Homo sapiens: one gene and its partners. The protein of the gene in region 7 purifies or fractionates together with the protein of the main gene of each other region. This does not show direct contact. Each region holds a gene or a part of one and is shown on either strand. Other genes may lie near its edges. The genes, in order: CSPG4, KIAA0232, MCCC1, DICER1, ITIH2, VWA5B2 and LECT2.

Region 1 (4,221 bases), on a different chromosome or scaffold from region 7:
CAGAGCCCCAGGGCTCAGAGGCAGGGGACTGGACACTATGGCCTGGGAGGGCTCGAGGGACTGCCAGAGCCAGAGACTGCTTTTCTGGGCCTGTGGTGACAGAGTCTGGTGCTTGTTTTTAAAGAAAATAGAATCCGAGCCCCTATTTATAGCCGGAGGCCACAGCCACAGACAGAAGACGGATGGGGTTTGAGGCTTACAGGCCCCTGCTCTAGCATGGACTGGGAGGTGGGGCCATTCCCAGGCCCCCCTGCCCGCCTTTGTCAACCCCCAAGGAAGTGCCTGTGGGATCCTGACACTCCCTGGGACAGGATGTAGCCTGCACTTTGGGGCACGGGAGGACCTGGTGAGGGGAGCGGAACATTTCTCAGGATTGGTCCCTGGGGCCCAGAGTCCCTTGTGGGAATGGGAGGAGGTGAGGGTCTGTTATGTCTACTGAGAAGGCAGAGAGGGCCCTGGGGACGGGTGGGGTGCTGGCGGCAGGGAGCACTTCTGACTGCCGTGGAACCCGGTAAAGGAGAAGGGAAGGAGAACAGAGCAGGACTGGAGAGATGGGCAGACAGACAGAGAGACAGGGTAGGAAAGACAGACAGAAAGAGATGGAGGAACCACAGCCAGGGGTGGGAAAGGACAGAGAGATGGAGAGAGCGGGATGGGGGGATGGACTGAGAGATCGGGGGTGCTCTGCAGCCCGGGTGACCCTGCGCAGGGGCAGACAGAAGCCGTGAGGGGAGACTGAAGTGTGGCTTCCGTCCCATAGAGTCTTCATGGTGCTCCAGGCAGCGTGGTCAGAGTCCGGGTGGAGCCGGTGAGGAGGGAGGAAGCAGGCGTCTCTGTGGCCTCGCCCACCCCCAGCCTCCAGGGTCTAGGGGCTGGAGACCCTCCGTTCCCGGCAGTCTCCACGGGGAAGGCCCAGGCCTGTTGGAGGCAACGCAATGCGGTGGGGCAGAGCCCAGATTGACCTTGTCACCAAGATCCCCAAGGGCTGTCTTGGGCACGGCCGGGACCTTGAGGGACAGGTCTGGTCTCTGGCTTGTTATGGAGTGAGTTCCCTAGGCCTGGAGGGCTCACAAGCTAAGGCTATGGCCTGGACTCACACCTGCTGCCAGCCTCTACGCAGACCCCTCCCTTGGCTGCGCTTGTAGGGGCTGTGGGGTAACCGTAGCCTGGGGCATGTGTCATGGAGCCACAAGCAGTGACTCAGACAGTTAAAAAAGGAGCAGCTCTGAGTGGTGACTCAATTGGCTCTGGAGGGGCTGGGTGGGTCTGGCTGGTACAAGATGGGGTGGTCTGGGTTTATTTTTGGCAGGGCGGGGCTGGGGCCAGGGGGTGGAAGATGGGAGCCGGGGGTGGAGAGGAGCCGCTGCTCTCATCCCGGGGGGAGCCCCAGGGCTCCATGCCAACTTAGGAAAGTGGCTTTCCAATGCCAGGGAGTCCTGGCAGGCTGGGCTGCTTCTCAGCCCCATTCCAGGCCTAGCCTGCCTTGCTGCTTGGCCCAGGACAAGCAGCTGGCTCTCTCTAGATAGAGGCAGAGGCCCCTGTCCTGTTCCCAAGAGGCTCAAGCTCAGAATTTAGAGCTGACCTAGGAGACTGAAGATTCCACCCAGAGGCCCAGATAGGGCCAGGGGTCTCCCCAAGGCCACATAGCAGGGCCAGGTAGCCCAAGGGCTGTGGCACCATCAGCCAGCTGGCTCAGGCCTCTACAATATCTCGCTGGCCCCAGGGCTGTCCACGGTTGGAGGGACAGCCCCCGTCTGAGTACCCACCCCTGGAGGGGCTCAGCCAGGCTCCAGATGGGTGGCCAGAAGCACACGGGCCCCAGATGCCCAGAGATGGAACCTTGGCCAGGGGCAGCCACCTGGATTCCATTAAAACATGTGGGTGGGGGGCCTGGCCGGGCCCTGTCCAGGGGTCTGTGGAGAAGAGTCACCTCTACGTGGGTGAAGGCAGTGGGGGCCTGCACAATGGGATCTTGCCCTGAGGGCTCAGGCACAGGCCTGCCCTTGTCCGGGGTCCCTCCAGTGTCCCTGCCCCGAGCTGTGCACCCCACTCTGCAGTCACCTCAGTCACCTCCCCACACCTCCCCCTACTCTGAGCTCACATACACCCATACCACTGAGGGGTCCTAGCAGCCCAGAGCGGAGAGGGCTGTCCCCTCCCTCAGTCCGGATTTCTGCTCCTCGTGATGCAGCCACCACTGCTTATATCATGAGTGGTGGTAACAGCCCCATGGTGACTCTGGCAGGTGAGCTGTCCCACGTCCCTGGGCCCTGGCCTCCAGCCCCCACCTCCAGAGAGGGACTCGCGAGGGGTTGGTAGAGAGCAGGGAAAAGACAGGCTTCTAGGGTCCCCGTCCCATAAAAGGTCTTGGGGCCTGCTCATTCTCTTCTCCTCACTCACCTGCTCTGGGGACAGGGGGTTCCTGCTGTGCCCCGGCCCAGTGAGCCCCATCCTAGGGGCTGTTAGGCTTGGGAGAAACAGGCCCTGGGGAGGGCCAGGCAGGGGCTGTCCCCACTTCTTCTAGCACTGAGAGAGGGGTGTGGGCCTCAGCCCAGTTAGCCACAGAGATGCAGACCCCCACCCCCTCCCACCTTCTGAAGGGTCCTGGGCTGGCAGGCAGCCGCTGGCTGATACCCTCTCCAGAGCCCACCTCTCCTTTTCCATGTCACTTAGTCCCACACAGACTCACGGGGCCACCTCCTCTAGGCCTTTGCCTCGGAATCTTCCTTAAACACTCCTAAGCAGAAGTCCCCATGTTGCCGGGCCACTCCACCCTGGGAAGAAGATGCTAATAGCAGAGTGACTGCAGCTTCAGGAGCAGATGTCCACCGAGCATTGATTCCAGGCAAAGTGTCTTGCTTAATCCTTACAACACGTAAGAGGTTGGAATTATTTATCCCCATTTTAGAGAGGAGAAAACTGAGGCTCAGAAAGACAGAGTCACTTGCCCAAGGTCATGCATAGAGCGTCAGGGCTGGAATTCAACCTGAGCTCTCTAATGCCGTGTTTCACCACCATGTGCCTGGCCTCCTGCTTCCCTGTGTGGGTTCCCACAGCTCAGGACTCAGAGGAGGGAGAGATGGGGCCTGGGTCAGGGCTGAGGGGCAGGGGAGGGGCTCCCTCTCAGCTGCTCGCAGACTCCCAAAAAGGGTGATTTGCTCCTCCTTGACCAGGGTGGGAAGTAAAAGTGTGTGTGTGTATCTGTGTCTGTATGTGTCTGTGTGCATATGTGTGTGTCTGTGCCTGTGTGTATATGTCTGTGTGCGTGTGTGTGTGCGTATGTGTGTCTGTGTGCATGTGTCTGTGTCTGTATGTCTGTGTGTATCTATGTCTGTGTGTGCCTGTGTGCGTATGTCTGTGTCTCTGTGTGTGTGTGGCTAGGCCTCAGGCCTGCCTGGCTGGACTCTAGCTGCAGGAGAGCTGGTCTGGCCCCAGCAACTGTGCACAGGGAAGGGGCAGGGAGAAGCGGGTGTCGTGGGAATCAGTGTCCTGGTCCCACTGGTATTTATAGCTGCCCCTTCCTGAAATGTGGGTGGGGGAAGGGGCTGCTCTTAGGTGGGAACGGAAGTTCGTCTCCTCTCCCCAGCCCCCTCTGTCTCCCCAGAGAGTGGACTGGCCCAGGCCAGAGGGCCTGCCCTGGCGGGGGAACGAGGCACTGTGTCCTGATTTTGGGGGTTTTCCCTGGGGCTGCTGGCTCGGGGCAGGACACTCTCCTTGCCTACTGAGCAATACTGCGTGTGTGTGAGTGTGTATGTGTGAGTGTATGTATGTGTGTGTGAATGTGTATGTGTGTGTGTGAGTGTGTGTGTGCACACACACGCATGTGCACTTACTGGGTGTCAGGCTGAAGAAGGTCATGAACCGGGGACAGAGGCCAGGTGAGGGTAGGGGAAGAAAGGCCTGTAACCCCACAGAGATGGAGGGCAGGGCCCCAGGAGAGGGGCCATCCAGGTCATGGGTCTCAGAGCAATCTGTGGTTAGAACAGGCTCCTGGGGGTGGCGATACTGGAGCTGAGCCTTGGAGGATGGGGGAAAAGGGAAGGCCTGTTGCATGGAGCAGCTTGAGTAGAAGTGGAAAGGTGCCAGCGGTTGTGGATTATTATCTGATGGCCTAGTTCTATCTGATCAGCCAGTCCGTGGGACACAGGATCACCTTGACCAGGGAGGATGATATATTTGGGGAGAGAAGGACATAGCACAGCACAGTTGAGCATCCCTAAT
Region 2 (4,221 bases), on a different chromosome or scaffold from region 7:
TAATGAAGAGCGCCTGTTAGATTTTAATAGGGTAAGTGGACTGTCCTCCTCCTCGTCATTAACTTACAAACAGCCACCACCTCCAGTTGTCACTGTAGTCAAAAACCTGGGAGTCATGTGAGTGGACCCCACCTCTCCCAGGAACCAGCCAGGCCTGTGGGTGCAGACTTCCTGTTCTCTGGCCTTTGTTCTGAGTCTGCATTCTCCCCCGCTTCCAAACCCCCTTGACTGTTGACTGCCAGTGCTTCCTGAAGAATCCCCAGCTCTCTCCCCAGTCTTGGCTCTACACTACTGCCCGAGGGCATTGCATTACAAATGCAGAGCTGACCCTGTTGCTCCTTGGGTGGGCACACTTTTCATCTTTTTTTTTTTTGTTTACCTAATAAGTGGGAGACCTAGCCTTGTCCTCTTTGAAAGTGCACCCTGAGGCAGCCTTGCCAGTGTGCTTGTTGCCGCTGTCCCGGCTTCTGCAGAACGATCCCGCCCTTTCCGTGTCCTCCTGCACTCTGTGCACGACTCTTCTTGCTGTAGCCAGAGCATGTACTTGCGTTCCGTTTCTGCATGTCTGCCTCTTCCACAAGCCTGTGGGCACCACGAAGGCGGGAGCGGGGCCTCCGCCTGGTTTAGTCTCGTCTTAGACCTTCCCCGGTTAAGAGGCAGGCAGGCAAATGAACCTAAGGAAAATTCTTTTTATTTGGTGTGAATTGTCAGTGTATTAGGGTTCTCCAGAGGGACAGAACTAATGGAATAGGTATATATATACACAAAGGGGAGTTTATTAAGTATTAACTCACACGATCACAAGGTCCCACAATAGGCCATCTGCAAGCTGAGGAGGAAGGAGAGCCAGTCCCAGTCCCAGTCCCAAAACTGAAGAACTTGGAGTCCGATGTTCGAGGGCAGGAAGCATCCAGCATGGGAGAAGATGTAGGCTGGGAGGCTAGGCCAGTCTAGTCTTTTCACATTTTTCTGCCTGCTTTATATTCTAGCCACGCTGGCAGCTGACTAGATGGTGCCCACCCAGATGAAGGGTGGGTCTGCCTTTCCCAGCCCACTGGATCAAATGTTAATCTCCTTTGGCAACACCCCCACAGACACACCCAGGATCAGTACTTTGCATCCTTTAATCCAATCAAGTTGACACTCAGTATTAACCATAACAAGTCCACCCCTTGTCAATTTGAACCCATACACATCTCCTGAAATTATATGTAATCTTCAAATAAAGACAATAAGGTCATAATTATACCTAACATAATACAGCTATGCTTCATACAACCGGAAAAGCACCAATCCCAAACCCAAGTACTATTACATAGAGTTAACAATACTTAAATGCTGATATGAAGTCAATAAATCTTATGTCAGCCGGGCGCTGTGGCTCACGCTTGTAATCCCATCATTTTGGAAGGCCAAGGTGGGCAGATCACCTGAGGTCAGGAGTTCAAGACCAGCCTGGCCAACATGGCGAAACCCCATCTCTACTAAAAATACAAAAATTAGCCGGGCGTGATGGTGCACCCCTGTAATCCCAGCTACTTGGGAGGCTGAAGCTGGAGAATTGCTTGAACCCAGGAGGTAGAGATTGCAGTGAGCTGAGATCGCACCACTGCACTCCAGCCTGGGTGACAGAGCAAAACTCCATCATTCATTCATACATACATACATACATACATACATACATACATAAATATATACATACATAAATCTTGTGTCACATGATAAAGGACAAAAAATAAAATGAGATTTTCTTAGTACAAGTGTATACATGCACAAACGTGTTTTTAACGAAGGAGGAAATACTCCTCAAGACAATTACAGTCCTGGTTTCTGCACCTGGTCACATGGTCGTAGCTGGTATTGATGACTACCTTCTTCTACTACCCATTCTGTATTCCCTTTGCCTTCAGCAAGCACCTCAGCAGGTTGTGGTTTTTTCCCGGTGGAGTGACCTAAACCTTCATTCCTAAAGAGTCTGAGCCATTTGTATCCTGTCTGGACTGGGCTGTTGTAGTTTCCCGTTAACTTGAATCACACGGCATGTGATCAAGTTGACACTCAGTATTAACCATCTGTCAGTGTCCATTCAAGTCCTGTGAGAACTGTCTGCCCAAGCACCTGTAGCATCATCGTCCACGTCCTGCTGCCCACTGACCTGTCCGGCTCCACACATGAAGGCAGATGTTTGAGGCCCCCACCAGCTCTCTCCTCAGTGACTAGTTCACATCATCCCTCCAGCCTCAAACCCCAAACTGAGACATATTCCCCAGTCCTCTCTCTCATCTTCCACACACAGTCTGCCTGCCAGTCCTGACCGTTCCCCGCTGTCAGCCACTTCGCATCTCCCACTTCTCCTCCTCTCCATCATTACCACTTTGTTCAAGCCACTGTCCCTGCTCCTGAACAGCTGCCATGGTCTTTTCATTGTCCTTCCTGCTTTCGTCATCCTTTCCAGCCTTCTCTCCACACAGCAGACAGAATGACCTCACGAGCAGTATCTTGTTCAGTCCTCACAACGACCCTGTGAGGTAGGTACTGTTGTCATGCCTGTTCTGCAAAATAGGAAAGTGAAGCACAAAAACATCAGGCGCCGTGTATCCGAGGCCAGAGAGCCACAGCTTCAGTGTGGACCTGAACTCTGAACCTCAGCAGTCTGCCTCTAGGACCCATACTGCTAACCATGATGTCACTTTGCTGTTGCATTTGAGACAGATCCAAACTCCCCGCCACGCCTCTACAGCCCTGTATGTTTTGCCCCCGTCTGCCTTTGACCTCATCTGTCTCTGCTCTCCCCTTACTCTGTGTGGCTTTTCTGTGCTTCTGCCTCAGGGGTTCTCAACCAGGGGCAATGCTGCCATTTGGAAATGAGGTGGGAGTGCTGCTAGTTACTATGGCAGGGTGAGGGGAGCTTTGTAATGACTGTGACTGAGGAGGGGCCACCACTGCATCTCATGTCCTGGGGTCCAGAGATGCTGACCATCTGGTGTAGGGGAGACAGTCCGACACCACAGAGTGTTGGCACCTCTGCATGGCTGGCTTCTCAGCTGAGCGGGCCTCTTCTCCAAAGAACTCCCTTCCCAACACACCCATCTGCAGTGCCCCCCCTCACCATCTGTACTGTGTCACTGCAAACTCCCTTCCCAACACACAGGTCTGCAGTGTCCCCTCACCATCTGTACTGTGTCACTGCAAACTCCCTTCCCAACACACCCGTCTGCAGTGCCCCCTCACCATCTGTACTGTGTCACTGCAAACTCCCTTCCCAACACACAGGTCTGTAGTGTCGCCTCACCATCTGTACTGTGTCACTGCAAACTCCCTTCCCAACACAGAGGTCTGCAGTGTCCCCTCACCATCTGTACTGTGTCACTGCAAACTCCCTTCCCAACACACAGGTCTGTAGTGTCGCCTCACCATCTGTACTGTGTCACTGCAAACTCCCTTCCCAACACAGAGGTCTGCAGTGTCCCCTCACCATCTGTACTGTGTCACTGCAAACTCCCTTCCCAACACAGAGGTCTGCAGTGTCCCCTCACCATCTGTACTGTGTCACTGCAAACTCCCTTCCCAACACACAGGTCTGTAGTGTCGCCTCACCATCTGTACTGTGTCACTGCAAACTCCCTTCCCAACACACCCGTCTGCAGTGCCCCCCTCACCATCGGTACTGTGTCACTGCAACTGGCACATGTTGGTTTGCTCGTTCATCTCCCCAGCGAGCCTGGCATGCGCCTTCCACTGCTGGAGTCCCTGTGCCCAGTAAAGTTCCTGGTGCATAGCAGGTACTCAAAGACTTTGAAAATGAAATAATTCTTTATCCTACCCTAACATGGCTAACATTTTGTCCAAGTGACTGAACATGTGGAATTAGGATTTTGGATCCTTCATGGATCAGAGAAGAGAGGCGGTTTTGCTCTGAAACAGTAAAACTCTGCATGTTTGTAACTCCACAGGAAAACACTGATGATTTATTATTTCTTCTTTGTATATAGATAGAGTATCTCACCCTTTTGGGGAAAAAAAAGTCTTTTTGATGTGTTGAAAATTGTTTTAATCTTAGGTGTCTTCTGTTTATGAAGCAAGATGTACAGGAGAGAGAGATTCTGGAGCAAAGTCAGATGGCTTCCGCGGAAAGATGTGCTCCAGCGCCAGCTCCACCTCGGAAGAGACAGGCTCAGAAGGCGGAGGCGAGTGGGTGGGCCCTAGTGAAGAGGAGCTCTT
Region 3 (4,221 bases), on a different chromosome or scaffold from region 7:
CAGCCTTAAACTTCTGAGCTCAAGTGATCCTTCTGCCTCAGCCTCCTAAGCAGCTGGGACTACAGGTGTGTGTCACCATACCCAGCTGAATTTTTTTTTTTTTTTTTGAGATGGGGTCTTACTCTGTCACCCAGACTGAAGTATGATGGTGTGATCACAGCTCACTGCAGCCTTGATCTCCTGGGCTCAAGCAATCCTCCCACCTCAGCCTCCCAAGATGCTGGACCCACAGGCACGTGCCACCATGCCTGGAATTTTTAAAAAATTTTGTAGAGACAGGGTCTCCCTGTGTTGCCCAGGCTGGTCTTAAACTTCTGGGCTCAAGTGATCCTCCCACCTTGGCCTCCCAAAGTGCTGGGATTACAGGTGTGAGCCACTGTGCCCAGGCCTGGCTGATTTAAAAAAAAGAATTTTGAGAGACAAGGTCTCACTAAGTTGCCCAGGCTGGTCTTGAATTCCTGGCCTCAAGCTATCCTCCTGCCTCAGTCTCCCAAAACACTGGTATTACAGGCATAGCCACATGCCTGGCCCAAACTATTTCAACTGACCTTCATACAGTTATATTTTAAAAGATATAAACTCATACCTCTTTATACCCATGTCTCTAATTGCAGATGGAGGAGGGCCTATAAAAATAATTCCTTCTTGCTTACAAAGTTCAGCAAATTCCATGTTTTCTGAGAGAAAACCGCATCCTGGATGGATAGCCTAGAAATGAGAAATAAAATAAAAAATTTACTCATCAGTGCTCAACTGGCAACACCTTAATGCAGGTGAAGCTGTCTTCCTCTGGGAGGCCTCTCCCTACACTGGTAATAGTATGGTCTCTATTAAACTCTGTTTCCAAAGAAATATCTGAAATATTCATATGAAAGCTCTGAAGGCTTACCTAAACCAGATGAATCTATATTTCTTTTTATTGTGATAATATATACATAGCAAAACACTGACCATTTTAGTTACTTGCAAGTATGTAATTCAGTGGCATTAAGTACACTCACAATGTTGGGCAACTGTCATCACCATCCATCCTCAGGATGTTTTAATCTCCAAACATAATTCTCCATTCCCTCCCTTTCCTTAGTCCCTAGTAACCAGGATTTTACTTTCTGTTTATGAATTTCTCTAGCCAAAGTACCTCATGTAAGTGGAAGCGTATAATAATTTGTCTGAGTTTGGCTTATTTCACCTAGCATAATGTTTTCAAGGTTCATTCATGTAACATGTATCAAAATTCCATTTGTTTTTAAGGTTGAATAATATCCAGTTTGTACACATTTTGTTTATCCATTAATCTCTTGATGGACATTGTGTTATTTCTACACATTGTGAATACTGCTGCTGTGAACAACAAGTATTGGTATACAAGTATCTGTTTTGAGTCCCTGCTTTAAATTCTTCTAGCTGTATACCAAAAGTGGAATTGCTGGATCATATGGTACAGAAGTTTCTATATACTTAAATTTAAAATAATATTGCAATTAGGGTAGAATGTCAAGAAGTAAAGGGCTTCAGAGTGGTAAGGGGAATTTGTCTATTCTGTCTCTGTGTAAAACTGGCCTAGAATTGAAATCATGGCATCCAAAAGCCCCAAACAGAACACTAGCTCAATAAATACCTCACTTATCTTCAGGTCATCAATGTCATCTTTCCAGAAAAAAAGCTAAGAAGCAAATGAAAGTCATGTATTAAAGTCTACAGGAGTGTCCCCTTATCCAAGATCCCTAGTGGATGCCTGAAACTATGAATACTACAGAACTGGACTGATACCAATTTGACCACGCTTCTGTTCATGTCTTCCAATCACAAATGTAATGCCTTTCCCATCTTAACTAAGTACTTGCCATGCCCTGTGGCCATAAGTTTTGCAGTTTGAGGTGCAACAGGAAAATGACATGAATTTGTTTTTCCTTCTTCACAATTTCACAGATAGAAACTTGGTCCTTACCAAGAACCAAGAAACCTCAACATACATATTTTTTTCTTTCCTTGAGAATTTTCACCTTTTCACTTAAAAGAAGCATTTCATGGCTTCTCTTTAGCATAAGTGAATTGCCACCATCATTGCTCTTGCATTTTGGGGCCATGATTTAAATAAAATAAGGGTGACTTGAACACAAGCATGGTGGTACCATGACAGTCAATTTGATAACCTAGATGGCTCCTGAGTGACTAACAGATGGGGAGTGGAGACAGCGTGGAGACACTGGACAAAGGGACGATTCACATCCTGGGAGGGACAAAGCAGACTGTGCAAGATCTCACTGTGTGACTCAGAATGGCGTGCAATTTGAAACTTATCAATTGTTGATTTCTGGAATTTTCCATTTAATATTTTCACACCATAGTAGACTGCAGGTAACTGAAACCACTCAAAGCAAAACCGTGGATAAAGGGGACAACTGTACGTGTACTTTCAGTGAAAAGGGCATCCCTCAGACTTCAGCCTAGTTACTTCCAGTGTACTCAGAATTTTAACAAACATACTTACTGGGATTTTAGCCCACAGAAGAGGAAATTCAGTAACTGAAGGACAGCAAGATTTCTAAAAGTAAACACGCTGACAGCAAAAAGGGAAGAAACAGAAGGAGGCAAAAGGCAGAGAAGACTTGGATGATTTAATGAGTGATGAAGCCACACCCTCTCCAACATCAGTAGCCCTGAGGGGATTTGTTCTTCTAAAATGTGAGCGAGTATTATAATTATGACCAAAACAATGTAAAAACACAAAGGTTCAGCCAATCCTGTTTCAAAATAGTTACACTCAAAGAACATTTCAAAATTAAAGGGGTAAGCTTCACATATCTGGGAAACTCATACGAATAGAAAAACCCACATCCTAGTGACAGGAAACAATGCAATGCCAGATACAGATAAAATGCTGGATACTCATATGTTGCAGCCAGTTTAGAGTTTTATATCTTTTAAACCAAAGTTCAATTTTATTTTATTAACTTTTATTTTAGGTTTGGGGTGCATGTGAAGATTACACAGGTGAATACATGTCACAGGGGTTTGTTGTACAGAGTTCGTCACCCAGGTATTAAGCCCAGTATTCAATAGTTATCTTTTCTGCTCCTCTCCCTCCCACCTTCCCCACTCAGGTAGACCCCAGTGTCTTTTGTTTCCTTCTTTGTGTTCTTAAGTTCTTATCATTCAGCTCCCACTTCTAAGTGAGAACATGCAGTATTTGGTTTTCTGTTCCTGTGGGAGTTTGCTAAGGATAATAGCTTCCAGCTCCATCCATGTTCCCGCAAAAGATGTGATCTTATGCTTTATTATGGCTGCATAGTATTCCGTGGTGTATATGTACCACCTTTTCTTCATCCAATCTGTCACTGATGGGCATTTAGGCTGATTCAATGACTTTGCTATTGTGAATGATGCAATGAACATACATGCACATGTGTCTTTATGGTAGAATAATTTATATTCCTCTGGGTATCAACCAGTAATGGGATTGCTGGGTTGAATGGCAGTTTTGCTTTTAGCTCTTTGAGGAATCACCCTGCTGCTTTCCACAATGGTTGAACTAATTTACACTCCTACCAACAGTGTATAAGCGTTCCCTTTTCTCCACAACCTCCTGACATCTGTTATTTTTTTGACTTCTTAGTAATAGCCATTCTGACTGGTGTGAGATGGTGTCTCATTGTGGTTTTGATTTGCGTTTCTCTAATGATCAGTGATATTGAGCTTTTTTTCATGTTTGTTGGTCACATGTATGTCTTCTTTTGAGAAGTGCCTGTTCATGTCCTTTGCCCACTTTTTTTTTTTTTGAGACAGAGTCTTGCTCTGTCACCCAGGCTAGAGTGCAGTGGCATGATCTCATCTCATTGCAACCTCTGCTTCCCAGGTTCACGCCATTCTCCTGCCTCAGCCTCCCAAGTAGCTGGGACTACAGGTGCCTGCCACCACGCCCTGCTAATCTTTTTGTATTTTTAGTAGAGACAGGGTTTCACCATGTTAGCCAGGATGGTCTCATCTCCTGACCGTGTGATCTGCCCGCCTCGGCCTCCCAAAGTGTTGGAATTACAGACGTGAGCCACTGTGCCCGGCTGTCCTTTGCCCACTTTTTAATGGGGTTGTTTTTCTCTTGCACATCTGTTTAAGTTCCTTATAGATGCTAGATATTAGACTTTTGTCAGATGCAAACTTTGCAAATATTTTCTCCCACAATTTGAGTATTTTATATAAAATGGTCAAACATCTATACTAGGC
Region 4 (4,221 bases), on a different chromosome or scaffold from region 7:
ATTTTTCCTTTAAACTTTTCAGCATTTTAAATTTCCTACAACTTGAACACACAGAATTGGGAATTGGAAAACAAACTTTCAAACTGTGGATGATTTGTGTGACGATAAGCTAGAGACATACAATTCTGTTTTAGGTATTGAAAACATCCTCCCAGCCGTGTGCAGTGGTTCACACCCATAATCCCAGCAATTTGGGAGGCCAAGGTGGGCAGATCACGTGAGCCCAGGAATTCTGAGACCAACCTGGGAAACATGGCAAAACCCCATCTCTACTAAAAATATAAAAATTAGCCAGGTGTGGTGGCATGTGCCTGTAGTCCCAACTCCTCAGGAGGCTGAGGCGGAAGAATCACCTGAGCCTGGGGGGCTGCAGTGAGCCATGATCACACCACTGCACTCCAGAGTAAGACCCTGTCTCTAGAATGAATGAATTAATGAGTAAAAACCTCCCCCGTTAAGGCACAAAATGTGGTAACATTTACCTGAATATCTGAGTGGGAAAAAACACACACAAACTGTTTTTCCTTTGTTCTCACACACCACATAAAATTTCTGTGACCAAATGTGTGGGGTTTCTCCCCAACAACAAGCAAGCCATCAATTCTGCAGCGGACACCAGCTGGGTGTCTTCTATTAATGACTGAATTCCAACATTATCTACCTGGAGATAGCATCAGATCCCACAGGTTGAGGGCTCCAGTCCTCAAGACCTCCCCCACCCTTCCGTGTCAATTGCAAACCTCAGGTTATTTTTTGCCCGTGCTCCCGACCAATCAGTTAACTGGGGTTCCCACAACGCCCTCCTGGGATTTAACTTGCTAGACCAGCTCACAGTCCTTGGGGAAAAACTTACTTATGTTTACCAGTTTATTATAAAGGATATTACAGGCTGGGTGCAGTGGCACACGCCTGTAATCCTAGCACTTTGGAAGGCCAAGATGGGAGGATCGCTTGAGGCCAGCAGTTCGAGACCGGCCTGGTCAACACAGCGAGAGTCCATCTCAATAAAAATAAGTAAATTAATTAGGTAAAGGATATTACAAAGATCCAGATGAAGACATGCACAGGGTTAGGTATGGAGAAGGGGTATAGAGCTTCCAAGCCCTCCCAGAGCAAACTGCCCTCCAGGAACCTCCATGTGTTCAACTATCCAGAAGCTTTCCAAACTCTGTCCTTCAGGGTTTTTATGAAGACTCATTACCTGGGCATGATTAACCTTCAGCCCCTCTTCCCTCCCCAGAGGTTGGAGGGTGGGTCTGAGTCCAAACCTCTAATCATGCCTTAGTCTTCCCAGTAACCAGCCCCCATTTTGAAGCTACCAGGAGCTACCGGCCACCAGTCGATCATTAGCATACAAAAACACATCACTTTGGAGATTCTAAGGATTTCAAGCCTTGTATGCCTAAGAATAGGGTAGAGGACAGACCAAATATATATTTTACAGTATCATAGTACCTACAATTTAAACCACAAATTCATTAGCCTTCTTTTCATGCATTACTGTATCTGAACCAAATAAATTTCTGGGTTTCTCTAAATCTCTAACATAAATATGTTATGTTTAGATTTCAATATAATCATGCCTAAAATTAGATTGGTCCAAAATTGAAGTGGAACACAGGTCAAATACCATCTTAACAAATTCCACCCATCAAAGATCTCCATATAAGAAGTGTCTCCAGGCTGCAAGCCAAAGGTCCGCTTACTTCTTGGAGTACTTCTCAGAAAGATGACATTTCAACACATCAAAACAGCACAGATACCCACCCCTCCCCTTCAAGTTACCTATAATGACATTTGTCCTACAGTTTTGTTTCAAGAGACATAAATACTTAACACATCACTAGCTTTCAAGGTGAGTTTTAAGGTTCATATTTGATTCCAAGTTTCTGTACTTTACTCTTTTTTTTTATTTTTTATTTGGAGACAGGGTCTCACTCTGTCTATTTACAGGCACCATCAGAGCACATTACAGCCTTGAACTCCTGGGCTCAAGTGATCCTGCCATCTCAGCCTCCTGAGCAGCTGAGACTACAGGCACATACTTTACTCTTAACACTGTGCAACGAGTGCTAGAATTTTATTCAATTCACGACTACCCTCTACCTTTACACCAAGAAAGAGCATCCATTGGGAAAAAGGAGCCACAATTTTCTCTTTGTCAAGCTGTTTTAAGATATATAACATGAATACTTAAATACTAAAGGGAGGTCAATCCAGAGACAAAATGAACATAAGAGACTACTGAGTTAAGATGGATGTTTATTGAGACAGGAAAGCAAATATATTAAAAGGTCCAGGCAAGAGTGTGACGCACTACATCATCATAGCTTCTGCGCAACATCTCATGTTATCTGCCTTTCCCGTAACACCAAAACAAGTGTGTACCAACAGAGTTCGCCACCTCTCACGAACCCCACCCCACAACTTTCCCTAAAAACCTCTATCACTTTAGTCCCCTCCCCTCTCATTTAGCACACATGGGCTAGCTACAACACCCAAATCATCACGGGCTTCATTATATTACTGCCCCATATATTAGCTGTTATTGCCATCTCCCTCAAGAGTATTAAGATCTTTGAAAGATAATCTCATACTATACTCACATTCATATTACATAGTTCATGATTTGTTTGATTTTCACGTTACTGTAAATTTGTAATGACTAGGTAGTTTGGAATGTAGGAAAGTAAATATCCATGAATAATTTTTTATTAATTAATTCGATGTTGAGAATAAGCTTTATTGATCTTAACTATTGAATTAAAGCAGCTTTTTATAGGTCAAATATAAAACTCAAATTAGACACTTTTAAATTAAAAGACTTTAAACAACCCAAATTATTTCAACAAGCTTAACATCCTCGATCTTGGCACCCAAGTCCAAAAGAATAATTCGAGGCTAACTAGAAACTGTCAAAGCTAGAGAGGTATCAGTTAGTGCAATGATAATTTTGGTATCATCTGACTATACCCATCCTAGTTTTCTCAGTTAACTTCCAACCACTACAAAATTCTCTTCCATATTAATGCAAACTAATCTGACTCCAACCTTGAAGATGTTTCAGAAACAATTTTAAAGTTCTTAAAGTTACAGGTGCAACTGGGAAAACCCAACTCAAGACAGTCTTATTTCTCAACTTAGTTTCTCATTTTACAAACTGTATTTTGTAGGCCGGGCACGGTGGCTCATGCCTGCAATCCCAGCACTTTGGGAGGCAGAGACAGGTGAATCACTTGAGGTCAGGAGTTCGAGACCAGCTTGGCTAACATGGTGAAACCCCGTCTCCACTTAAAAAATACAAAAATTAGCTCAATATAGTGGCTTGCACCTGTAGTCCCAGCTACTCAGGAGGCTGACACAGGAGAATCGCTTGAACCCAGGAGCCAGAGGTTGCAGTAAGCTAAGATCACGCCACTGCACCCCAGCCTGAGAGACAGAGCAAGACTCAGCATTAACAACAACAAAAAAGAAATCGTATTTTGTTAGGTTTAAAATTCAGGCGAAACTCTACTGAATGTCAACTAATAAATGTAGAAGGAATGACAGAAAAGTCACCATTTTTAACCATCACATTAGTGATTGAAGCAAGGATCATTAATGGATGCTAAAACCATTGGGTGAAGGTTACTAAAGAATATTTACATAGCCTGAAAGCTTTTCTGCAGATTACCTACTAATTACAAATGAAAACTAGTATTTTTATTCAGTGGAAAAACCAGATAGATACCCCTTTAATCCAAGTGACAAAGCTAAGATCACCAGTATTAGGACAAACTGACAACACATACCTAATGTAGTTTTCCTACTGAAAGTACAAAACTTGAATCTATTTTTGCCGGGGGAAAGAGGGGAACAGAGTCTCGCTCTGTTGCCCAGACTGGAGTGCAGTGGCACAATTATAGCTCACTGCTACCTCAAACTCTTAGGTTCTAGAGATCCTCCTGCCTTGGCCTCCTAAAGTGCTGAGATTACAGGAGTGAGCCACTGTGCCCAGCTGAAACCTGAATCTAATCATAAGGAAACATAAAACCTAACTTGAGGTTTATTTTACAAAACACTTGGCTTTATACACTGAATTGAAGTATGATTTCAAGGATGATGTGTTAATTCATGCATAGCAGATGAAGAATGTGTTATTTAGGGAAAGTTAAGAGACGTTTAAGGCACTGTTACATTTGGTATCACTACTACAGAGACCAACTAAGATAGCTGAACCAG
Region 5 (4,221 bases), on a different chromosome or scaffold from region 7:
ACACACGGTCCCCCATATACACGGCCTTCCCCACTATCAACATCCATCCCACATCAGAGTGGTGCATTTGTTACAATGGAAGAAGCTGACACATCATTATCACGCAGAGTCCACAGTTAACGTGGCTGACCCTTGGTGTTGTACATTCTATGGGTTTGGTTAAATGCATAATGACAGGTGTCCACCATTGGAGTATCATATAGGGTATTTTCACTGCCATAAAAATGCTCTGTGCTCCACCTACTCACGTATCTCCCACTCCCCAACCTTTAGCAACTGCTGATCTTTTTATAGGAATTGTTTTAAAATCAATATTTAACTTCTGCAACAATTTGCTATATACCTGTAAATACATCTAGTGTGCTTCTGTCAGAGAGGGAGCTATTTCTCGTTTACTTCACAGTCATAGTTTACAGCCTTGCGTATTTCTTCTAACCTTATTGACATCAGGGATTTTCTCTATGAGTTCAGTCATACAACTGCATTTCATTTTCCCAGCCTCATTTAGACCCTGTTCCACCTTCCTGAGAATCCTGTCTTATAGACAGAATGAGGCTTGGGAATGGGAACTTTTATCAAACACCTCTGTGTAATTTTGATGCAGGTGGTCAACCATCCATTGCTCTGGGGATATAGTTTTCATGTTGGAGAGTTGAGATGCAGCTCAGCTGAGAAGTCAGAGGGGCCATGGATGAGCATGGGGGAGCCCTTCCTTAGGGAACATCATAATCACATAATCATTAAATTCTCTTTGGACAAGAAGCCGTTTTCAAGAGTAAATGCAAATAAATTACTGATACATGAAGCAACCAGAGGGGACATAGATGAGCATAGGGGAGCCCTTCCTTAGGGAACACCATAATCGTTAATAATCATCAATTTCTCTTTGGACAAGAAGCCATTTTCAAGAGTAAATGCAGGGCTGGGTGCAGTGGCTCATGCCTGTAATCCCAGCACATTAGGAAGCCGAGGCAGGCGGGTCATGAGGTCAGGAGATCGAGACAGTAAATGCAAATACATGCCTGATACATGAAGCAACATGGATGAATCTCACCAACATCATATTGAGTGAAAGAAGCCAGGAACAGAGGAATACAGATTGCATGATTATGTGAAATTTAGGATCAGGCAAAACTGATGATCACAGACATTGAAAGAGTGGTTACAGTGGAGGAGGGGGGTGGGTGTTGAGGGAGAACAAGGGAACCTACATCTGGATCTGGGTGGTGATTACACGGATGATAGATATAAAAATCCATTGAATGGTGCACTTAAAATTAATGCATTTTGGCCGGGTGCGGTGGCTCATGCCTGTAATCCCAGTACTTTGGGAGGCCCACTCGGGTGGATCACGAGGTCAGGAGACCGAGACCATCCTGGCTAACATGGTGAAACCCCGTCTCTACTAAAATACAAAAAAATTAGCTGGGCGTGGTGGTGGGCACCAGTAATCCCAGCTACTCAGGAGGCTGAGGCAGGAGAATGGTGTGAACCCGGGAGGCGGAGCTTGCAGTGAGCTGAGATGGCGTCACTGCACTCCAGCCTGGGAGACAGAGCGAGACTCTGCCTCAAAAAAAATAAAAATAAATAAATAAAATAAAAATTAAAAAATTAATGCATTTTGCATACTTTACTGTATGTTATACCTCAATAAAGAAGAAAAAGAGTGAACCCAGCTTTCTCTGAAGTGTTCAGAACTAGTGGAAGGTAATAATCCAAGCCTGTGCTAATGTGCTGTCTTTCTTGCTTCCAAACTCTTTTTGTGTATGACTTCATATATTCACGGTGGACATTTCAGTTTTGCAGATCTCGTGGTGTGGGTACTCTTCTCTTCTTACCGTTCAGCTAGCAGTTGGTTGATGGTTAGATAGGCCCACAGTTTCCTGGTGAAATCGGGATCTGCATGCTTGTCTTTCGATAGAAAATCCTGCAAGTCGTCCATCTGGGCCAGGGTCTCCAAGACTAACTGCGTGTTAGCCTAGATGATGGAAGGTTCAGTTGAGAGACACTGGGTAACAGAATTATAGTTCATTGATTCACATTTTTAGTACCTGCTGCGAATGAATGGGAATAAAAAAGAAATGGAAGGCAAAGCCTACGGAGGAAGGAAATGCATTCCTGTGCTTGGGATTGGGCTTGGGTGAAAAGGTCAGGATTTATGGAATAGCTGGGAAGATGGCAGAGATATTCTCATGCCTTCTCCATCACTGATTGCTTCTGTTCTACACCCATGATTCCAGGCAGGCAGAGCTGACATTCAAGAGGGACTGTATCTAGGGGGTCAGTTAGTAGATAGAATAAATGGATAAGTGGAAGTACCGAAGTCGCCGTGATAACGCTCTCTATTTGATCCAATTTAGCAGGGTCAAATTTTCCTGCCACCACAATCTCTGAGCCTCCAAAGTAGTTATGGAAATTGTTTTGAGTGACGTCCGTGACTGATGTATGGGGATAGTTGAACTGAACATTCCGGAGCAATGGAGTGGAGACCTGGTTGTAGAATTTCTACAATTCACAGAGAGAGAGAGAGAAATTATGTTCCTACTGCTTTGTAGATCTAAAGCATTTTATTTTATTTATTTATTTATTTTGAGACGATGTCTCACTCTGTTGCCCAGGCTGGAGTGCAGTGGTGGGATCTCGTCTCACTGCAATCTCCGGCTCCTGGGTTCAAGCAATTATCCCACCTCAGCCCCACAAGTAGCTGGGATTACGGGCACCCGCCACCAAGCCCGGCTAATTTTTGTATTTTTAGTAGAGACGGGTTTTCACCATCTTGGCCAGGCTGGTCTTGAACTTCTGTCTTGTGATCTGCCTGCCTGGGCCTCCCAAAGTGCTGGGATTACAGGGATTACGCCCAGCTGATCTAAAACATTTTACTCTGAGATTCTTCAAAGAATCAGCAGATACCTCTTAATTTATTCACACAGGACGTTTGGGACAAGGGAAAATGCTCGTAATTATCAGATTAAAAACAGAGAGAAGACAAAGACTTGTTGAGAACATTACCTTTGGTTTAAGAGCCTGGCATTTTTTTCCCTTTCTGTTACGGTCAGCGTGAAAAACTCTTGGACAAACTTATGATAAAAGTCAGCAGGAGGTCGGGCATGGTGGCTTGACCTGTAATCCCAGCACTTTGGGAGGCCAAGGCAGGCGGATCACCTGAGTTCAGGAGTTTGAGACCAGCCTCGCCAACATGGTAAACCCTGTCTCTTCTAAAAATACAAAAATTAGCCGGGCCTGGTGGCACATGCCTGTAATCCTGGCTACTCAGGAGACTGAGGTGCGAGAATCGCCTGAACCCAGGAGGCGGAGGTTGCAGTGAGCCGAGATCGCAGCACTGCACTCCTGAACCACTGCACCACACCATTGCACTGCCATTGAACGTACTTGTCACCCAGCCTGGGTGACAAAGCAAGACTCTGTCTCAAAAAATAATAGTAATAATTAAATTTTTACAAAAGTCAGCTGGGTTAATAGTCCCCAAATCAGAATCTTATCTCTTACTTGTTCCCAAATTTAAATACGATGCCTGGTACTGACAAAGAGCAGGGAAAAACATGTTCTTTCCCTACATCATTTTCTCATCTATTTAATCAAAACAAACAAGTAGTTTGTGTCTTTTCAATATATGTATTTTAATTAAAAAAATTATCTGTTGAACAGATGGATCTCACTATGTTGCCCAAGCTGGCCTTAAACCTCTGGGCTCGAGTGATCCTCCCACCTTGGCCTCCAAAGAGCTGGGATTACAGGCATGAGCCACCACACTCAGCCTGTATCTTAATACTTAAGAAAATTTACACTGTGAAAAATTGATACCAAGATGCCAATGCACGTTAAAGAGAAAACGGTTGGCCATGATGATAAGAAGACCAATTGCTGGTGGGGCAGGAGAGCTACAAGGAGCTTTGATGACGCTCAGAAGGCCTTTTTGTTCAGGGGGTAGGACAGCTGTTCCCAACACCCATCTGCCTCATACCTCACTGTTACTGCAGAAATATGAGGGTGGGGGGAAACATGTGAGAAAGGAACTGGGCACTTCCCTGATCCTTGCAACCAAATATGGCTGAGATCATGACCATTTTGAGTTAAGTTCAGTTATGCATCATACCTGCATCAGATATGGGTAGTTAAATGATTTCCAGTGAAGAATAAAAAAAGAACAGAAGAAAATGTTACCTTAAGCTGGGAAGACGTGTCCTGGTTTCCATAAATCCT
Region 6 (4,926 bases), on a different chromosome or scaffold from region 7:
TTTCCATTCAACCCTTGGCCACCATCCCTTGTGGATAGACATCTCCCTGTGGCCTGGGACCCCACTCTGCTCATAAATTTCCTGCTCCTGAACCATCAGGAGCTCCCCCATTGCCCACTAAGGTGGCTCCAGAATTCTCTACTCCTCCCGGGCAGGAGGAATAGAGAAGCAGGAAGCAGGCTGGAGGACATAAAGCTCCATTTGCACACTGCACACACTGTTTTATTTAGCTCCTAGGTTTGTTTGGGGACTGGTGGGGCTGCTAAAGGAATAATGACCAGCCATGTACAGTGGCAGCTGTGTACACCACCGACGTGGTCTGGCCCCAGCCCACGTTCACAGCCCTACTGTACCTCACTTCCTCACAATGACCAATTGTTCATCCTTTCAATAAATACTTGCTGAATAACTGAAGGGAAGAAAAAGATGGAAGGAAAGAAAGAAAGGGGCTTCCATCCCAGCCAACCGACACAGTGGAGACAGCACAGCATCAAGTTTTAAATATCAGCTCGGTGACCTCTAATTGAGTCCTTTGGCAGCTCTCTTGTTCTGAGGAGCCTGTTTCCTCATCCATAAAGTGGGGATCATAATAACTCTGTGATTGTGGTGAGGAACAAATGAGGCAATGTATGCAAAGCACCCAACATATAAGTCAGTGACCCCTGCTATGACTTTCATCCCCCATAACAGGAGGAAGGGGGATTATCCCCCTTCCATCCCCCATAACAGGAAGAAGCCTGCATTACCCACTACTTGGGATTCAAATGAGGTGATACTAGCGATTGTAAACTGTAAATCACTATAAACATGAGATATTTTATTGTCATTACCCACTGTAACCTACTTATAAGCATTTGCTTATACTGTTGCCCCTACCTTCCACTTAACTGAGTCCTACCCTTTCTTGCAGTCAAATGCTGGCTCTACCTCCTTCTGGAACATTCCTGGGGCCTCAGCCCAGAGCTCACTCTAGCCTCTAACCACAAGCCCCTAACGTGCTGGGCTTATGCCAGCTCTCAACACCACTGGATTCTGTTCCTCTTCTTCTTACCTGGATTGCAAATCCCCTGGGCAGGAATCAAAGCCATGTATGAATGAATCAATGAAAGAACCAGGTGCAAGCACAGCACACAGCACAGGGCTGGGCTTCTGTCCCTTCCCCGGGCACTCGCTGGGCCTCATAGTGCCAGGTTCTGTGTGAGGTGCTGGGATTTGGAGATGCTCCAGCGGGGAGACAGACAGGCAGATCTGTGACAATGACTCCCCCTGTAAGTGCCATAACGAGGGGGCACAAAAGGCTGGGGAGCCAGGAAACAGTGCAGCTATTTGTGGGAGAGTCAGGGAGGGTTTCCCTAGGAATGACGTTTAGTGGATCTTAAAGGACAAGTAGGAATTTGCTCAATAGAAGATGGAAAGACAGAGCAGAGAGTTGGGAAAGGACCTGTCAGTCAGTGTGGCCAGCGGCAGCGGTACCTGGTGTATGGGGTCGCTGGGAGAGGGATGGAATGGGGTGAGAGCGAGGGCCTTGGCTGCTAGGCACAGGAGTCTACACTTGATTCACTGGCCCACGCGGGGCCGGATTGAGGTGTGCAGCCTAAAATAGTAAGGGGCCGGAGGGGACCACCAGGGGAGAAGGCTCCCTTTGCAGCCCCCTAGAGAGACCGGTCTCCTGGGCTGTAAGGGTTGCTGGCGCCCCCGCAAGCCCTGTGCTGCCTGCTGTGTCTGTCTCCCAGGCTGTGAACCTCCGGGCCATGTTCTCCCAGCACCTGGCGCAGGTCAGGTGCCCAGCCCACGACTGCTAAATACCAGGATGAGCCAATGAATGCACAAGGCAGTGCCCGGAGGAAGGCGGGGGACGGGCGGAGGCCGAGCGGATGCGGGAGCCTGAGCTGCGCCCGGCTTTCAGGAGCGCGGGTGCGGGCGCGCGGAACTCACCCTGCGCGCAGCGGCGGGGCGTCGGGGTCCCCAGCCCCGGGCCCAGAGCGCGGCAGCAGGCGGCCTGCGAGCGGCGCCGGCTCTGCAGCTGGAAGGAGACGCGCCGTCCGGCGGCCTCGGCCTCGAAGCCGGACACCACCTCGGCCTCGGCCAGCGGGTACACGAACACGCCTGGGGAGGGCGGCGGGAGGCGGCGTCGGACCCTGCCCGGCGCACCCCCCGCCGCGCCCGCGCCCCACCCGGGCCTCACCGTCCACCGGCTGCGGCTGCGGGTTGCGGTAGGTGAGCCGGGCCCGCACGCTGAGGCAGGGGCCGTTGGCGCAGGCCCGGACCCAGGAGTCCGTGAGCGGCAGCGGCGTCCAGCTGGAGGGGCAGTACAGGCCGGGCATGGCGCCGGGAGGCCGGCCCTGCGGGAACGGGCCGGGGAAGCTGGGCGCAGGGTGACGGGACGCCCACCCCGCGCTCCAGAGGCCAGCGCGAGAGTCTCACTCCAGCACCCGGACGGGGCCTGCCGGGGCGCGAGGCCGAGCGGGAGCTCCTGAGGGCGACAGGTGGCGGGGGAGATAAGGGGGCGGCAGGCGTGGTGGCGAGGAGGGCATCCTCACGCGTTACCTGGGCAGCCGGGCCGCGGAGGGTTAATGATTAACGCGCGCTTCGGCGCCCAGCAGTCCCGCCGCGGCTCCCCCGGGGGTGGGGGCGGTCACAGCTGTTCCACCGCCCACTCCCAACCTCGCAGCCACCCCCGTACCTGCCGGCCCCCCGGGGCCCCCCGCGGCCGCCAGCTGTCGGAAGCGGCGCGGGTGGAGATGGAAGATGCTCCGGGAAGGCGGAGGTTTAAAGGGCCCGAATCCCCCCGGAGGCCCCCGGCCCTGCGAGGGATCGCGGGGGCAGGGTGGATGGGGCGCCGAAAGGGCCTTGGTCTTTCTCTCCCTGGTGCCTCATCCGACGGGGGTGCTGGCCGGAGTGGAGGGGTTAAGGGTGGGAAGAACGAGCTGGGAAAGCGAAAAGAGGGGGTCTTTGGGAGGCAAGCCCGGGAGAGGTGTCGGGCCAGGGAGAGTCCGTGGGAGCCGCCAGGTTACCGCTCCCTACCCCGGCAGAGCTGATGTGGGAGGAGGGGGCACCTGCAGTGGCCGCGGCCCGCGCAGGGGATGCCGCGGGCTGGCTCTGGGGATCGCCCCGCTCCCTGTGGCAGTCTCAGCCTCACCGTCGCGCCCTCCGCGGAGTTCTAGGTGCCCACGGGATCCGTGTGGGTGGTGCCGCCTCTGCGCTCCGGGTGGCCCTCGGTCCCGGCACCTGCCGGCCGCCAGTTCGTGACTGTGGCTGCAGCGGCTCTGAGTCCCGGCAGGGGCGCGGGCCCTGCCGGCGGTGGTCCCGCCCCCGTTCCGAGAGGCCGCCCCTCCAGCCTGCCCTGGCCACGCCTGCTGCTGCTGCGGCGGGGCTGGCGCTCCCCCCTCCTTCGGGCGCGGTACCGCCTCCGCGCCAGCCGCGGCAGCCCGAGCCAGACTGGGCACCGCAGTGCAGGGACCGCGTCCCCGCCGCCGCACGGATCCCCGTCACTGCAGGACCGAGGCCTCAGAGACCCCACCCTTTCCATTCTTCAGGAATCAGGCGTCCTGCAAGTGCCACCGACACTGCCGCGACCCCAGCTATCCCATTACCACGACGGCATCCCATTCCCCAGCCCACCCCACCCCCTGCCCTGGGTTGCTTCCCATCGCTGCAGAGACCCTCCCTCCTGACTGCAGCGAACCCCCCAGCCCCCCATCACCGTCACCGCAGGACTCTTCCCCCAAGAAGCTGGCCCCTTTCCTTTGCAAAGTGCTCTTCATCACTGCAGAAAACCTCCCCCATCCCTGCAGGTACTTTTAGTTCATGCAGCCACTTCAGTGACCACTCACTCCAAGCAGGGATTCCTCATCACTGCAGCGACCTCCTCCCACCCCCAAGCAGCCGGCCTTGGCATCGCTGCAGTGCCAACCACTTCTGCTGGGGTGGGAGGGTGTGCACAATAGCGCCCTCAGCCTATAACCCCTTGGTCTCTTCAGCTGTGCGGGCCTTGGGAGTGAAGCCTTCTAGCCTGAAGAGCCTTCTTATGGCTGCAGACCGTCCCCTCATAGCAGTGACCCCCACCCATCACCGCAGCCCTGAAGAGAAAACATCTCTGCTTGTCAGGAGGGCCCCTTGTTATTGGCAGACTTTGCATGTGCTTGACAGTGTTATGCTGTCAAAAAGTAGGAAGGTCCGGAAAACCTCTCCCAGGTCCCCCAAGGAAGAGTCTGAGAGCCCTGGGGAAGTGAGAGGAGATGACCATGTTTGGGGATCATCCATGTAAGCTTTTTGGCAGATGCCATACTGAGATTCTGCAGAGAGAGCTTGAGGAGAGCTGGGGATGGAGGACAGCCAGTAGGAAGTGAGCTTTCGAGTCGGGCCCATGGTTCTCACTCCTCCGCATTAACTCTCTCCTTCTGATTTCAATCACTATCACCAGGGATCATCCCCCCGGGGGATCCCTGCCTCCTTGAGTATCTGAGCCCTCAACCCCAACCATCTCCTTTGCTCACCCTACTTAGCATGGTGGAGAGAGCTTGACCTTTTCCCAGGGAATTTCATGGGTGGAAATGCACAGGAATGATACAGGGAGCACAGACACAGTCACACGTACCCAACACACAGGGAGCTCCAGCTGGGTCCTAGCCCTCTTTCCATACTACCTGGGTCATGGTTCCATTCACCTCTCTCCCCCTTTCTCTACTGAGTCTGTTCTCAGCTTCATCCTGAACGAGGGTCCCTCTTTCAGGCCTAGGGAGAAACAGTGGATGGGCTGATGGTCCCTCCAGGTGATCCAGGGCCTCAGGTAGGACCAGCCCTGGCCCTGAGGGCCTCACAAAGGTCCAGGCAGTGGCCACCTTTCCACAAGCACCTTGTGCTCTGCCCCTTCTACAAATGAACCAAGAGCTACATGTAGCCCTTGGACAAACATGAGGTTGCAAA
Region 7 (3,511 bases):
TAAGAATATAATCATTCTGCTGGCATTTTCTGCATTCCGAACAAATTTAAGCAGAAATTCATGAAGTTTCCAGAATGATTAGTTCAATGTATTCATTTCTTACCAACTGGCTAAACTCTAAGGAGCCAGAATTATTTCTGGTCCTTTGGACATTTGTATGGTCTTGTTTCCTCATAGTACCTGTTGTCAATATAACTAAGACAGAATAACATAGATATAATACAATGATGTGTAGAAATAAGTAGCTGTAATATGCATATGGCTAGATGAAGTTGACAGGCCCAATTCCATGAGACACTTCAGATAAAGGTAGGCCTCATTCTCACTCTAGTCCTTCCTGTAGTGCAGCCTCACTGTTTTCTTGGGATATGTTTTCTTGGACTGCCATCATTCATAATCATGTGGGTGAGTGGATGGAAATACCAGCAAATCCTTTATTATCCATGAAAGCAGCTCTCTCTCCAACCAATATGATAAACCTAAGGATATTGCTGAGAGTCTACTACCTAAACTCAACTTATTCATTGAATATGTATTAAATGTATACTAAATCTAGCATTATAAACCACTCACTGTTCTTGTACCATAGAAACACTTTCAGGCTTTTTCTTATTTTCAAGCAGAAAGGTTGCTAGTTTTAGAGGTGTCAAAAATGCAGCCTGGCCCAGCGTAAGTTCTCTTGTTTATTTATCTTAGATCTTCGGGACTGAGAAATCTAAAAAATAAAACCACTCAGATTCCATAGGTGACAGATCAAAGAGCCCGAAGCAACCAGTTCACATGAACATCAGAGTGACAATGAGTTAAAATCAAAATGTTTTCTTTCTTGCATTTATCATGTTTCTATTTAAACTCAAATTTCCTTTTTTTAATTAAAAAATTTTTGTGGGTACATAGGTGTATTTGTTTATGAGGTACGTGAGATGTTTTGATACAGGCATGCAATGTGTAATAATCATGTCATGGAAAATGGGGTATCCATCCCTTCATGCATTTTTCCTTTGTGAACACAAATTTCTTGAAGAGAAGGGTATGCATCCAGGTTTTTAAGATGACTTTTTATTTTGAAGATCTGACCATTGGCCTTCGATTTACAGGTATGCAGTAGGGTCACTCGAGTCACAGTTTTCAATGTGCACATGCGATTGTATGCCAGGATAAACTTTCTGCAAGGGCAATAGAGTTCCAAGTTTTTCTCCCTTCTTAATAGGACCTTTATACTTAATTGGCTTAATGTAGAACATTTTGACACAAAAACCTAAAAGAAAATAAGTATAATTATTTATCTGGGCTTCAGTAATCTTGAATCTGAAATTAAAAAAATAACAAATGGACAAAAAATAAAAAAAAGAATGTTGAATGAACTCAGGAGAGGAATAGATGAAAATGACAAAATGATATTAAAAAGGAAGACTAAATTACAAGATGCCAAAGGAAGAATAGATTCAAATGAAACGCTAATAAAGGCATTGAAGAATAATAGCAGGAAAATACTAGCTAGTTAGAAAAGGTGAGCCCTGAACAATGTCAACTCCAAAACATATTCTGATAGAATGATTGGACTTTAGAGATAAAGAAAAATAGAAATAACTGGAACAAAAATACAAACTTTGCTAAATATCAAAAGAATTAAAAAGGCAAAGACCCAAGTAGAGAAATAGAGTACAATATAATAATTATACAATAAAATGGTGTTGGGTACAAATACAGGAGTCATGTCTATAAATGTGAATGGCCTTATCTTGCCTATTAAAAGATGTCCCATTGGGTTGAAAAGCAAACCCCAATTGAATGCTGTATGGAATAAAACACAGCGATTGAAAAGGCTGAAAGTGAAGAGCTGGACAAAGATTTGCCAAGCACATGGACAAAGATTTGCCAAGCAATAAGAAAGCAAGGGCTATTGTCCTGTTACCAGAAGAGTGGAAATCAGGCCAAAAGGCATTGAAACAAGACGAAGATAATGTAAGAGGGTAAATGCCACAAGTCACAATGAAGATATAACAGTTACAACTATCCATGCACTAAATAGCACAAGTCATCTATATAAAGCAGACACTACAAGAGATGCCAGGAAACATAGATAGAAACCCACCAATAATAGGAGACTTTGATACACTAGTGGCACTGCAAACCGGTCAAGTGAGCATAAAAATAAGGCTGTAAAATTATGCTGTCCAATATGGTAGCCACTAGCCACATGTGGTTATGCAGCACTTGAAAGGTAGTTAATATGAATTGAGATGTGCTTTAATGGTAAAATACACAGTGGATTTTGAAGACTTAGTATTTAAAAATGTAAAATATCTCAATAATTTTTGTATTACATATTGATATAATACTTTGAAAATATTGAGTTAAATAAAATACTAAAATACCATGTTTTTTTACTTCAACATGGCTACTAGAAAATTTAAAATAATAATAATAATAATTATTATTATTATTTTTTTGAGACGGAGTCTTGCTGTGTCACCCAGGCTGGAGTGCAGTGGCGCGATCTCGGCTCACTGCAGGCTCCGCCTCCCGGGTTCACGCCATTCTCCTGCCTCAGCCTCCTGAGTAGCAGGGACTACAGGCGCCCGCCACCACATCTGGCTAATTTTTTGTATTTTTTAGTAGAGACGGGGTTTCACCGTGTTAGCCAGGATGGTCTCGATCTCCTGACCTCGTGATCCATCCACCTCGGCCTCCCAAAGTGCTGGGATTACAGGCACGAGCCACCGTGCCCAGCCGAAAATTTAAAATTATATATATGACTTCTGTTATATTTCTATTGGATAGTTCTGCTGTAGAAGAGCTAAAACTCCATCAGGTAGGTTTTACGAATAAATATTAAACAAAAGATGTGCAAGACCTCTACACTGAAAACTACAACAACCATTAATATAACAGTGAAGGAAGACCTAAGTAAGTGGAGGACATAATATGTTCATTGATTGGAGGACTCACTACTTTAAAAATATTAGTTCTCAATTTGATCTGTATATTTACTGCAGATTCAGTCAAAGCCCCAGCAGGATTTTTGGTGGAAATTAGCAAACAGATTCTGTAATTTATTTGGAAATGCAAATAACCAAGAATTGCCAAGGCAGTCTGAAAGAAGAAGAAAGTCAATTCCAATTATGCATTCTGGAACTGGGGAAATAACCTCTTGGTAGATTGGAGGATGCACTGGGCTCACTGTAAGATGGACCCTAGTGAAAAGCTATATTTACCACCTGACTCTAAGCCCCTAGTCTGACTGGTGAACCACAGTGGCCTTTTAGATCTCCAGGAATTAGTGTCAGTTTTGAGCAAGTGTCCAGTAATCTCTGAAGAGCCTAATTATTTCTTCCCTAATGTGCTGTCATCCTGCTAAACCGTTGCAGGTCCCTTTGGGGACAGCTAGAAGTAAGGTTTACAGTATAAATGTTTGGCTGCGTAGCAGGACCCTTACGCAAAAGGACTGAGCCTCCCTTTTGTTCAAGAGGCTCTGGGACTGTGAACCAATTCAAGCCTGGGAATTTAT

What was found.
Region 1: the proteins of LECT2 (region 7) and CSPG4 purify together in Homo sapiens (affinity purification with mass spectrometry; one large-scale study listed by BioGRID and IntAct). This does not show direct contact.
Region 2: the proteins of LECT2 (region 7) and KIAA0232 purify together in Homo sapiens (affinity purification with mass spectrometry; one large-scale study listed by BioGRID and IntAct). This does not show direct contact.
Region 3: the proteins of LECT2 (region 7) and MCCC1 purify together in Homo sapiens (co-immunoprecipitation; one large-scale study listed by IntAct). This does not show direct contact.
Region 4: the proteins of LECT2 (region 7) and DICER1 purify together in Homo sapiens (affinity purification with mass spectrometry; one large-scale study listed by BioGRID and IntAct). This does not show direct contact.
Region 5: the proteins of LECT2 (region 7) and ITIH2 purify together in Homo sapiens (affinity purification with mass spectrometry; one large-scale study listed by BioGRID and IntAct). This does not show direct contact.
Region 6: the proteins of LECT2 (region 7) and VWA5B2 purify together in Homo sapiens (co-immunoprecipitation; one large-scale study listed by IntAct). This does not show direct contact.

What each region holds. Positions count from the first base shown.
Region 1 is NC_000015.10:75,702,644-75,706,864, forward strand, and holds part of CSPG4 (chondroitin sulfate proteoglycan 4 precursor), read right to left. Parts: intron 1-4,221. UniProt on the Homo sapiens protein: Proteoglycan playing a role in cell proliferation and migration which stimulates endothelial cells motility during microvascular morphogenesis. May also inhibit neurite outgrowth and growth cone collapse during axon regeneration.
Region 2 is NC_000004.12:6,876,727-6,880,947, forward strand, and holds part of KIAA0232 (uncharacterized protein KIAA0232), read left to right. Parts: coding exon 1-31; intron 32-4,060; coding exon 4,061-4,221.
Region 3 is NC_000003.12:183,071,780-183,076,000, forward strand, and holds part of MCCC1 (methylcrotonoyl-CoA carboxylase subunit alpha, mitochondrial isoform 1 precursor), read right to left. Parts: intron 709-4,221; coding exon 587-708; intron 1-586.
Region 4 is NC_000014.9:95,147,030-95,151,250, forward strand, and holds part of DICER1 (endoribonuclease Dicer), read right to left. Parts: intron 1-4,221. UniProt on the Homo sapiens protein: Double-stranded RNA (dsRNA) endoribonuclease playing a central role in short dsRNA-mediated post-transcriptional gene silencing.
Region 5 is NC_000010.11:7,730,095-7,734,315, reverse strand, and holds part of ITIH2 (inter-alpha-trypsin inhibitor heavy chain H2 precursor), read right to left. Parts: coding exon 4,183-4,221; intron 2,506-4,182; coding exon 2,320-2,505; intron 1,979-2,319; coding exon 1,839-1,978; intron 1-1,838. UniProt on the Homo sapiens protein: May act as a carrier of hyaluronan in serum or as a binding protein between hyaluronan and other matrix protein, including those on cell surfaces in tissues to regulate the localization, synthesis and degradation of hyaluronan which are essential to cells undergoing biological processes.
Region 6 is NC_000003.12:184,227,927-184,232,852, reverse strand, and holds the start of VWA5B2 (von Willebrand factor A domain-containing protein 5B2), read right to left. Parts: upstream 3,269-4,926; 5' UTR 3,140-3,268; exon of another isoform or gene 3,057-3,139; intron 2,501-3,056; exon of another isoform or gene 2,474-2,500; 5' UTR 2,325-2,473; coding exon 2,186-2,324; intron 2,107-2,185; coding exon 1,936-2,106; intron 1-1,935.
Region 7 is NC_000005.10:135,946,240-135,949,750, forward strand, and holds the end of LECT2 (leukocyte cell-derived chemotaxin-2 precursor), read right to left. Parts: intron 1,259-3,511; coding exon 1,092-1,258; 3' UTR 665-1,091; downstream 1-664. UniProt on the Homo sapiens protein: Has a neutrophil chemotactic activity. Also a positive regulator of chondrocyte proliferation. Does not show metalloendopeptidase activity.